4 separate regions of the Homo sapiens genome follow, and all the other regions are linked to region 1. Evidence: fine-mapped expression QTL. A gene starts in region 1. Each other region holds a variant in brackets. All regions are shown on one strand. Distances are between the middles of the regions.

What was found. PIP is the estimated chance that this variant, and not a neighbour inherited with it, causes the effect. A credible set is the group of variants that fine-mapping cannot tell apart.
Region 2: its variant is the best candidate, but not a certain one, in a credible set for the expression of PDE2A in blood mononuclear cells (TOPMed, PIP 0.62).
Region 3: its variant is the best candidate, but not a certain one, in a credible set for the expression of PDE2A in whole blood (INTERVAL, PIP 0.53).
Region 4: its variant is the best candidate, but not a certain one, in a credible set for the expression of PDE2A in whole blood (INTERVAL, PIP 0.66).

The regions. Positions count from the first base shown.
Region 1 is chr11:72,673,430-72,676,133 of GRCh38, forward strand. PDE2A (phosphodiesterase 2A) reads right to left here and starts at 993. Exons shown (of 31, transcript NM_002599.5): 1 at 708-993. The coding sequence starts at 778. RefSeq lists enhancers at 1-188, 189-814, 815-1,441, 1,442-2,066, 2,217-2,704.
Region 2 is chr11:72,576,708-72,579,452 of GRCh38, forward strand. PDE2A (phosphodiesterase 2A) reads right to left here. Exons shown (of 31, transcript NM_002599.5): 27 at 2,577-2,676; 28 at 2,190-2,302; 29 at 1,769-1,807; 30 at 1,526-1,632; 31 at 1-887. The coding sequence ends at 677. Among named protein-coding and RNA genes, the nearest start is that of PDE2A-AS2, 6.5 kb to the right of the region's middle. The variant T/C (reference allele first, on the strand shown) is at 1,540.
Region 3 is chr11:72,602,317-72,604,816 of GRCh38, forward strand. The region is part of intron 4 of PDE2A (phosphodiesterase 2A); the gene reads right to left. Among named protein-coding and RNA genes, the nearest start is that of MIR139, 12 kb to the right of the region's middle. The variant CT/C (reference allele first, on the strand shown) is at 972.
Region 4 is chr11:72,594,927-72,597,426 of GRCh38, forward strand. It overlaps PDE2A (phosphodiesterase 2A), which reads right to left. Exons shown (of 31, transcript NM_002599.5): 6 at 1,667-1,722. Among named protein-coding and RNA genes, the nearest start is that of PDE2A-AS2, 12 kb to the left of the region's middle. The variant T/A (reference allele first, on the strand shown) is at 1,556.

The DNA.
Region 1 (2,704 bases):
ACCACCTCGGCAGCCCTTAGTAGAGGGGTGTCGCCACGGCGCCCCCCACTCACTTGCACATGCACCCCCCTGCACGTGGACACACACGAGGCTGGCACCATATTCCATCTGGCTCCGTAGAACCCTATCCTGGGACAGACGCTTTGGGGTAAAGTTTCATAAAGTGGTGTCCCTGAACCCCAATTCCCAATTCCATGGAAGGTGGTTACCTCTAACCCTCTCTTGCTCCAGGGCCACTCTTATTCATATTTTCTCCATCTTTCCCCCTCCCCACCTCCTTCACACACACATAGCCTTGGTGGGCCAAGACACTCTCCCTCTCCGGGTCCTGAACCAGCCTATTGCAGCCCCGAGAGCTCCTCCCAACTACTTGGCAGACCTCCCCCTCCCCACATACACCCTCAGCCCTTGAAGAACCGGTTCAGGTTCATTATCAGCCCCTCCTCCAACCAGCAGCCCCTTCCATGGGACCCCAGCCTCATCACCTACTAGGTTGACGTTAGACACCCTCATTCTGCTCAGAGGTAACCTGCCCCCACCCCAGGCTGCAGTCTGGCAACGCGGGGAGGAGGGGTGCCCAGGAACAGGATCGATCCTTCCACGTGGCTCAGCTCCATGCCAACCCCAGCTCCTTGGAGGGACTCCCAGGACCCTGTCTGTGGCACCTCTCACAGCCGCTCACCACCCCAGCCCCTCACTATACTCACGGCTCAGCCGGTCGCGCTGCCGGGTACTGCTGGCTCCTGCAGAGGATGGAGTGGCCGCATGCCTGCCCCATCACTCCTCATCGTCCGCCTCCCCAGCCAGACTAAGGTGGCACCTCGCCCTGTCCCCGCTGCCTGGAGTTCAGGGCAGGGCACCCCCAGCAGGCACAGGGACCAAGAGCAGTGGGCTGCCCCCTACTCAGCCTGGACTCAACACCCCAATCCAGCTCTGCTGCCCCGCTGCTCCCGCCTCTCCCGCTGCCACTGCCTCTGCTGCTCGGCTGGCTCTGGGAGGAGGTTGGAGCAGGTCTGATAATGCAGAAGGGGGAGGGAGGAGGGAGGAGGAACAGAGAGAGGCCCAGACAGAGAGGGAGAGAGGGAGAGAGGGAGGGGTAGAGAGAGAGTCTGACTGGGAGAGAGGAAAAAAGACTCACAGACAGAGAGACTGAGAGATAAACAGAGACAGGAAGGGGGACAGTAACACATGAAGAGGGAGAGGAGAGAGGGATCAGAGCCTTAGCGAGATCAAGATGGAAGTACAAAGAGACCAGAGAGGCATAGAGAAACACACACACAGAGGAACAAAGGCAGAAAAGGAAAAAAAATCAGAGGCAGAAATAGAAAGAGAGTGGGGTAGGGGGAAAGGGGAGTGGCTGACAGAGGAGAGAGGGGAGAGGACGAGGGATTTACAATCCTCATGGGCTAGGATGGGGCTGGGGACTTGAGGGGCAGCAGACCCAGACCCTCTGCTGCCCCATCGCAGAAGCCTTCAGGATGAGGGGACACGCTTGTGCCCTCAAGTCTGAGAGATCAGGCCTCCATGCACAGCTAGCTGCCCTCTCCTCTGGGCTCCCTCACCCGGTGTGTATCATCTCCTAGCGTGCATCCCAGCCTGGAGCTGGGTCCACGGAAGACTTAGGGGGCTTTACTGATGGCCTTTGGACTCAGAGCCTTGTCACAGGGCCCACCTCTTGGTGGCTTGGTTTAGCTGGGACTTGGAGCTGATGCGTGAGCATGGACTTCTACCAGGATCTGTGGAGACCTAGGCCACAGCCTGCCCCACATGGCCTTCGCTGCTCACAGACTACAGGCATGGGGGAAGGCCTGTTGCACCCCCACCCTGCTTCCAAAGAGGACTCCCTAGGATAAAGCTATAACCTAGTGAAATAGAGGCATTTTAGGCCCTAGGACAGATAGAGAGTTGTCACAGCAGAGCTACTATTGTATGCAGGAGAAACAGCTCCACACCTTGAGGCAGGAAATGGGGATTTGGATCCTGGCTTCACCATTAACTTACTTATTCATTGGCCTACCAGTGGCTGAGCTCATGGCTCACACTATCCCTTGTCTCAGAGAAGCACTCGGGCTGGGGAGTGGGGAGGGGAGACTTGCAGGCTGTGACAGAAAGAAGCACAGGGTCTGTGAAGCCCAGAGGGACCCCTGACCTAGTTTGGGTGGTGGGGGGGCGGTTAGCAAGCATTTCTGGAAGAGAGGGTCCAAGCTGGGTCTTTTAAGGCAGAAGAGGGTATATTCCAGGGTAGAGGAGCTACAGCAAACCCTCCACAGCAACCCCATCTCTCTGAGCTGTGGGGAGAATACCTCCCCGCCACACAACAGGCTTCAAGCAGAGAAGTCCCTGAGGCTGAATAGAAACCTGACCCATGTTGAAGAACATGGGGGTGCACGGTGGAGGGGGCAAGGTCAGAAATGACTGAGCTTGTGTAGATGGCCTGCCCAGGCTGGGTGCTGCAGAAAGCAGTTGTCTTGTGGCCTGGGAAGTGTCAGGAAAGAAAATATGAGGAGTCTTTGCTTCCCACTGTGGCCCCAGAAGGCATCATAGAATTTTAGATCTCTGAACTCTGGGCAAACCATTTTCTCAAAGGGAACGAGGCCCAGGCTGGTTGTAAAGCAGCTGAGCCAGCCCAGAACTCATGTCTTGCTTCTCCACCTCACCTATCACTGGGGCCTCGCTGCTCCATTCCTGACAGCTAGGAAGGCAT
Region 2 (2,745 bases), 97 kb before region 1:
TACCTGGGCCTGTCTCCCAGTGCGGGGATCCCTCCTGCCCATCAATCCCATCCTGCTTCTCCCCAGGGCCCCTCTCTGCAGAGCACTGAGCTGCCCCTCTGGCAGCTTCTTCCTGGGGCCCCTGTATCCCCCAGGTCCCAATCCCACCATCAGTATAGTAGTGGTCCTCAGGGGGCCTTCGCCCCGCGGCTGTTTCTAGTCCTCCCACAGAACTAAGGACTGTTTCCAAGATGCCACACTCTGCTCACTCAGATGTCTCACCTTCCCCTTCCATGAGGATCCTGGAGACCCCAAAGGGTGGGAGTCCTCAAAGGGAAAGGAGCAAAGATCTGGTGGGGCAGAAATGGGGCAAGGAGAAACCATCAAGCTGCTCAGACAAAGAATGGCTTGGGAAAGACTTGCCAAGGTGTGGTCAGAGGTGCAGAGTAGGGCCCACTGCTCATTGGTCACCCCTGTGCTCTCAGAAAACAAATTACAAAGTCTCCGTGAGGTTGGAAGTCTTGCTTCCATTATACAGACGAGAAAGCTGAGGCCCAGGAAGGTAGTACTTGTCCAGGGTCACACAGGAAGTCCTGGTCTAGGACCCAGGACCCGTGGCTCTGTTCCCAGTGCATCTGGCCAGACCAGTGGAGGGCTGTGGGAGGTGGCCTGGGCAGGGAAGTGTCCCTGGAGGGGATCACTCAGCATCAAGGCTGCAGCAGCCATTGATGGGGGCCCTAGTGCCATCCAGATCAGGCACCTCGTACTCCTCATCCAGGAAGTCCAGCGAGTTGTTACTTGGGAGGCCGCGGATGGTGAACTTGTGGGACACCTTGGTCCAGTGCTCACGGTTGGAGGCCACGCGCTCGTACAGCTCTGCCGCTTTGGGGAACAGGTCCTGCAACAGCCTGCGGGTGCATGGGGGGCAGAGGGCGAGAGGCCAGAAATCAGACCATGGGCAGCAAGAAAGACTAGGGCTACACAACAAATAGAACTTCCACAAGGGCCAGGTACGGTAGCTCACGCCTGTAATCCCAACACTCAGAGATGCCGAGGTGTGTGGATCACCTGAAGTCAGGAGTTCAAGACCAGCCTGACCAAAATGGTGAAGCCCCATCTCTACTAAAAATACAAAATTAGCTGGGCGTGGTGGTGCATGCCTGTAATCCCAGCTACTTGGGAGGCTGAGGCAGGAGAATCGCTTGAACCCAGGAGGGGGAGGTTGCAGTGAGCCAAGATCGTGCCATTGCACTCCAGCCTGGGCAACAGAGTGAGACTCCATCTCAAAAAAAACAAGAACTTCCACAAGAATGTGAGACAGAGGAGGACACCTAGGAAAGCATGATGGTCTCTTTCCACTGAGGACCAAGGATGAAGTGAAGGACCCACTGAGGGGCACAGCGGGAGACAGTTATGCCCAGAGGCAAGGGGATGAATCAGTTGGACCTGGGCCAGGCCAATCTCAGCACCTGTGTTTCCTGTGATGTCCCCACTCCAGCCTACCCTCTCTGTGCAGGGTGCAGCTTGTCCCCATGAGCTCACTCACTTGTAGATGGGCAT[T/C]GCAATGTGCTCCATGAAGCTGATTTGCAGCTCAGGGATATAGGCCTTCTCCCGGTCCATCATCTCCATCGGCCTGTTGCCCATGGCCTTCTCCTGCAGGCATCGAGTCGTCAGGCCTGTCCCTCTCATTCCTCCATCGGGTACCAGGGTCAGGCTAGTTCAAGCCCTCCCTGTCCCAGGCCAGGAACCCTCCCCCATCCTGGACATCCTGGGGTCACTCCACACATACCAGGTCTCCCTGGGAGAAGAATTCTTTGTAGATCAGCTCCTGAAAGGCCAACACTCTCATCACATCCTCTATGTAGGATACATCCACCCAAGCTCCTCTGACAGCCCGTTCCCAGGAGAGAAAACTGAGGCCCAGGGATTCAGTCCCAGCTCAGGAGCCGTCCCCACCAGCCCCAGCTTGGCAGTGGGATGGCCTGAGGCAGGGAGTGGCTGGGTTGGGGCCCACCTTCCACCAGCCACTGACTTGCTAGGTCTGTTCCCCTCTCTGAGTCTCCATTTGTCACCCTGAGATGGTCTAGGTTTCTGTCTCCCCAGAACACAGCCAGGCTGAGCTGAGCAGAGAGAGGGTATTCAGGCACAGGGGGCACCCAAAGCTGGGCAGGGTGGGCAGCCTGTGCCTTCCCAGGGAGGACTACACCTACCGCGATCTTTCTCGTAGTCTTCCAGCCCTTGGTCTGGTCAGAGAGGTCACAGGAGGTCATGAGGAGGCAGAGGAGAAGTCTGTGGTGCTGCTTGTTGTTTCGGTCGTAGCCCACTGTTGAGGGGAGGATGGGGTCAAGGAGCGGGGCCCAGCCTCTTTGCCCTTCTGAGGACAAGGCTCCCAGGGCCCAACCCAGAGCGGTCCAGGGAATTGGGCACCCTTGATGGGAGCCAAGGGGCCAGTGCTGGGTCTGCCTGGGGGGGGCCGTGCAGCCAGAGAAGGGTTGATGTTGCAGGGGATGGGTCTGCACCCTGGGAATGCTCCCCTGGCAAATCCTTCCCCTGGTTGTTCCTCCCCAGCCCCAAGGACTGGGGCTAACAGCAGTCACCCTCAGCCATCTTCTGGAGGTCCTTGAAGATGCGGAGATGGTGGGCCAGGTCTGTGGCCAAGATGATGTCCCGCATCAGATCCAGCATGCGCTGATAGTCCTGAGGCGAGGGCAGGGGTGTCATGCCCTCCTACTGGACACCCCCACCCATTTGCCCATCCCAGTGAGC
Region 3 (2,500 bases), 71 kb before region 1:
TCCACCCTGTCTCTCCCCACACTGCCCTGATCCCATTCCCTGCCCATTGCCTCGGGCCTCCTTATCTGTCTCTATGATCCAGCCTCCACGCCACACCTGCTGCTGTTTGCCCACAGTCCAGGGTTTCCTGGAGTAGCACCCTCCCCACACCCCCACCTCCTCGGGCACTGCTAGAGCCTCAGGCTCCACGGCAGCCTGTAGGTCAGTCCCTCTCCCTCCTGGGGGGACCAGAGCCACAAAGGTCACCATCGGAAGGACCCTGTACCCAACCCCACCCATTTCACAGAAAAAAGGCCAGAAGAGAAGTCGTTTTCTCAAGGTCACTCAAGGCTAATCATTGGTTGGGACTTGGGAGTGCAAGTAGCAATCACTGAGCTCCTACTGTGTGCTGGGCACTGTGCCAAGCACTTGGCCCCTGTTACCCCATTAAGCCAATAGACCGGGCCTCAGGTAGGAAAGCAGAGAGACAGGGAGGGGGCTGAGCTAGAATCCAGACCTGTCTGAATCCCATTCCAGTGCTCTTCCCTCGTCCATACACCTGGGTCTCAAGTCCCCATCCTGCTGGGAGCTCCTGAGAGCAGGGCCCAGCCAACCCTGGGGCCTCTCCGCCCTAACTGTGGAGATGGGCTCACCACCAGACACCAGGCACAAAGGTGGGCAAGCAGAGCTCAGATACCAGAGAGAGCACTGGGCCTGGGCCTTCCCCCAATCCTTTTTCAGGTAGCAGCTGAGCCTGGCAAGCCACTCACCTTTCACAGGGGCCATGGAAAGAATTCCTGTTTGGGGATGATGACGGGTGTGTCCTGATGATGGGTATGTCCCCTGGGAGGTCCTTGCTGTCCTCACTCTCTTGCCTTCTCATCCCCTGGCCCTCCTCCTGGAATCTTCAGCCCCTGTCTACCAGCAGGCACTCACCTCCCCATCTCCACTGAGCTCTGGGATAATTGGATTTGAATATTCACTTTTAATTG[CT/C]TTTTTTTTTGGTATTTTTTCCAAAGGCCTTACTGAGTCTGAAGTGGTTGGAAGGAGGATGTTGAAAGGGCAGCTGATGCCAAGGATCTGAGCCCTCTCAAAAATGCCTGGACCGCAGATACGCACCCACTCTACATGCCCAGACAGCTGAGGGGAGCATGTGTGGGTCCTAGGGAGTGAAGCAAACCTGCAGGCTGCTCCCCGCTGCCTCCTGAGCCTGTTTTCCTGCATCCCTCCCAGGAAGGCCTCCCAGGCTGCTCCGAGGAGCCTTCCTGGAGGAGTGGAGCTTATATGAAGCAAAGTTCTTTAGAATTAGAGGTGGGGGATGCTGGAGGAGAGCGAAGTTCTTTGGAATTAGAGGAGAAAGGGGGACATGACCACATTTTTCCCCTTAAGGTTCTAAAGACCTTTCAGACCATCCTCTTACAGACGGGACACAAAGGCTAGAGAGAGGTGGTAATGGCTTTGTTCCCATGCTCCTTGACGGAGAAGTTGTTAGGGGAAGGTGAAAGGAGCTCAGTGGGAGAATAGGAAATGGGAAGGTGGCTATCAGAGCAGAACCAACTCCTTCCACGGGAAAGGGCTGAGGAGAGACCAGCATCCTAGAAACCAGGGTTTCCAGCACAAGGAGGGGCCTCAGGACCATGAGTCCAGCATCCTCAAACAGGAATTCTTTCCATGGTCCCTGTGAAAGGTGAGTGGCTTGCCAGGCTCAGCTGCTACCTGAAAAAGCCACATCCCTGGACCACCTGGCCTGCTGGAAAAGCCCTCCTCACAGGGGTAGAGAGCTGCCTTCTTGGGACATCCCCACTGGTGCCCACTCTGCCCTCAGCTCCTGCCCAGTGCTCCCTGGGCCCCACAATGGCCCTGCATTCAGTGCTTAGCAGGCAATGGCCACATCCTTCAGAGCCTGCCTCCTCCCAGCAGCATGCCTGCCCCCAAGGTTTTCTCATCTGATGAGTTCCACTTCCTCTCACTTTCCCCTAAACAGCCAGGAGTCAGAAGACCCGAGTCCTAGGCCTGGCTCTGCCTCATACCTGGCATGTGGCCTTGGTCATGTCTCATGATATCCACCCATCTGGAAGATGAGGAGGCTGAATTAAATGGGCATCAAGGTATCAGGGGGCCAAGTGCCCTGATCCCATGATCCTGAAGTCAGTGATTCCAGCATTCTCTCACAATGGTAATCCCCAACAGACAGCCCTCACCATGGATCAGGCCTGATTTAAATGCTTTACATGTGTGACACATTTAATCCTCCCCACAATCCTATAAGCACCATTATTATCACCATTTCATAAACAAAACTGAGGCACAGAGAGGTTGTGTCATTTGCCCAAGGTTACACAGCTAGTAAACAGGGAGCTGAGATTTGAACCCAGGCAGTGGGGCTCCAGAACCCTCAGCAGGACGCTGCCTGTGATCTCCCTGTTCTCAGATGCAAGGAGTTGGCACTGTGAGCTCCTGCAGGCCCAGCATGCTGGGATTCCAGGTCCAGCCTCGCAGTAGTTCTCACAGCATGCCGGTG
Region 4 (2,500 bases), 79 kb before region 1:
GCTCCCTGAAGGCAGAGTCGGCTCCAGCACCCAGCCTGCCGCAGGACCAGACCAGAGTTCTACTGGGTGAGTTAAGTGTAAGTGATCTGATCCCACCAGCGTCCCTGAGACACACACACACACACACACACACACACACACATTGGCCTCTGGCCCAGCCTGAGCCAAGGTGAGCAGCGGCCATGGCAAGCATTCCGCCCACAAGGGAAGCAACCTTCCAAATGTCTTCCCCTTACTTCCCTCCTGACCCAGTCCTCATAGCCTCAATCTAAGGAAGTCCTTCTCAGGCACCTGGCACCCCAGGCCCTTTGCCCTCAGCAGAGAAGGAGGTGCGTGACCCAGCCACCACCTCCCAATCCCCACCTCTGCACACAGCCCCTCACCTCAGTGCCCCTCAAAGCTGACCAGCCCTGGGGCAGACCAAGAGCAAAGAATAGGGGGAGGCGACCCCCTGAGAACTCCGTGCAACAGCAGCTCCGTTCCAGAAACCGGGGGTGGGGGGAGCAGCTTGCGGAGAAACCAAGCAGCGGCCTTGGCTCCCTCAGTCAGGAAGATGGGTGCAGAGGAGACCCAGCCAAGTACCCCTCCTCCCCTCCCCCCTCTCCTCCCCTCTCAGCCATCCCTGACTCCCACTGCCCTCTCCTGCCAGCAGCTCAGAAAGGTCAGGCGCCTGGGAAGCGTTTAATTCCATTTTAATGAGCTGGAGAGGAGTCCCCGGGGAACCAACACCTGCTCATTTATCTGTCCATGCCCCCAAGCCTGCCCTTTACTGGAATGGCAGCCCCCTCGACAGAAGCAGACCCCCAATAATAGCAATTTGGGGAACTCATCCTTTGGTTACTAGGATAGAACGAGTTTGAACCCCCACCTCCATACAGGAGAAGAAACGGAAAGAGCGGCAGAATCCCGTCCCCACAGGCTCTGCACTTCCACAATCCCCTCCACGGAGCAGAAACCCTGGGAACTCCTCGAGGGGCTGCAGAGGGAGGCTTGTCTGGGTTCTGGGGCTCTGGCAGAGCATCCACCACTTCCCACTAACACTCCTTCCTCAGCCACTCCAGAAAGCCCCCCTAGCTGCCTGTCTTCCGCCCAGCCTCAGCCCTGGGTCTGGCTGGCCTGACCATGGCCTTTCTCTCCTCAAGGCCCCCAGCTCCAGCCACTCCAAATCTCTGGCTAGTTTTCCACACTATCTCTATTGGTCAGGCCCTTATGTCCATCTGTCCCTCCGCAGCATCTCTCTTCACACCTCACTTGGTTCATGCCCTCCTGGACATTATCCCCACCCCATCTGGAGGATCCCAAAGAGAAACCAAGGTTAGTGCTGCGTACGCCAAAGGCTGGGCCTTCTAACCTTATGGGGGCTGAGAGTCCAGCAGGGGCTTGCACACCCCTCAGAAAGCTGCTGACTGGGCCAATGGCTTCATCCTACCTATTCGAGGTGGGGCAGAAGGCTGGGGTGTGGGAGATGCCCCAACTCCTCCCACCCCCACACCCCCATTTCCCCTCACTCCATCCTCGCTTATGGCTCCCATCTCTCTCTCTCTCTCTCTCTCTC[T/A]CTCACACACACACACACACACACACACACACACACCCTGGACAGGCTCCATCCACCACTCCCTCCCATGGTCTCCTCTCCCTACATCCCACCGCCTAGGCAGGCTCTTACCAAGATGACAGCTGCCACGGCCCCAGCCTCCTTGTCCGCTAGCGGCATGACCAGCACTGAGGGGGAGAGGGCAATGAGGTGCTCCTGCAGGGCTGGCGAGGCTCAGAGATACCGAGCCGGGACCCAGGTGGGGGAGACAAAGATGCAGACAAAGAGAGGCCAGGACAGAGACACACAGAGACCCCAAAACCCACAGAAACACAGAGGCGGGTCCTGAGGCAGCAACAAAAACAACCACAGCAACAGCCTCTGCATGGAAGGAAACCCCTTCACTCACAACCTTCTTGTGATCCTCCCAGGGTTGCAGGGAGGAAGGCAGGTGAGGCTGAGCACCTCTATTTTACAGATTGGGAAACTGAGGTCTAGAAAGGGGAAGTGACTTGCCCAAGATCACACAGCAAGTCAGGTCTCCTGACTCCCAGTCTTGTGCACTTTCCACATCGAGACAGAGGACAGAGACCTAGAGAGACTGAGACACGAGGCAGAGAGGGACATGGCGGACAGGAGGCATGGAGGAGAAGAAAAAGAGAAATAGGGCCAATGACAGTGACAGAGAGAATGTGAGAACAACTACAGCCCCATCCAGCATCAGGCACAGGCACATCACAACCACAGCCACGGGCCACTGAGCCCTCGCTTGTGCCAGGCCCCTAACATGCATGATCTCACTTGCACCTCCTTGAAACACCCCCTCAAGGTAAATACTATTGTCCCATTTTATAGTCAGGAAGTTGAGGCTCAGAGAATTTAGTAGTACAATAGAGAGAGAATTAGATGGAGGGACTGCTAGAGACACAGAGCAAGAGAAAGAAGGAGACAGAGATGAAGAGGAAT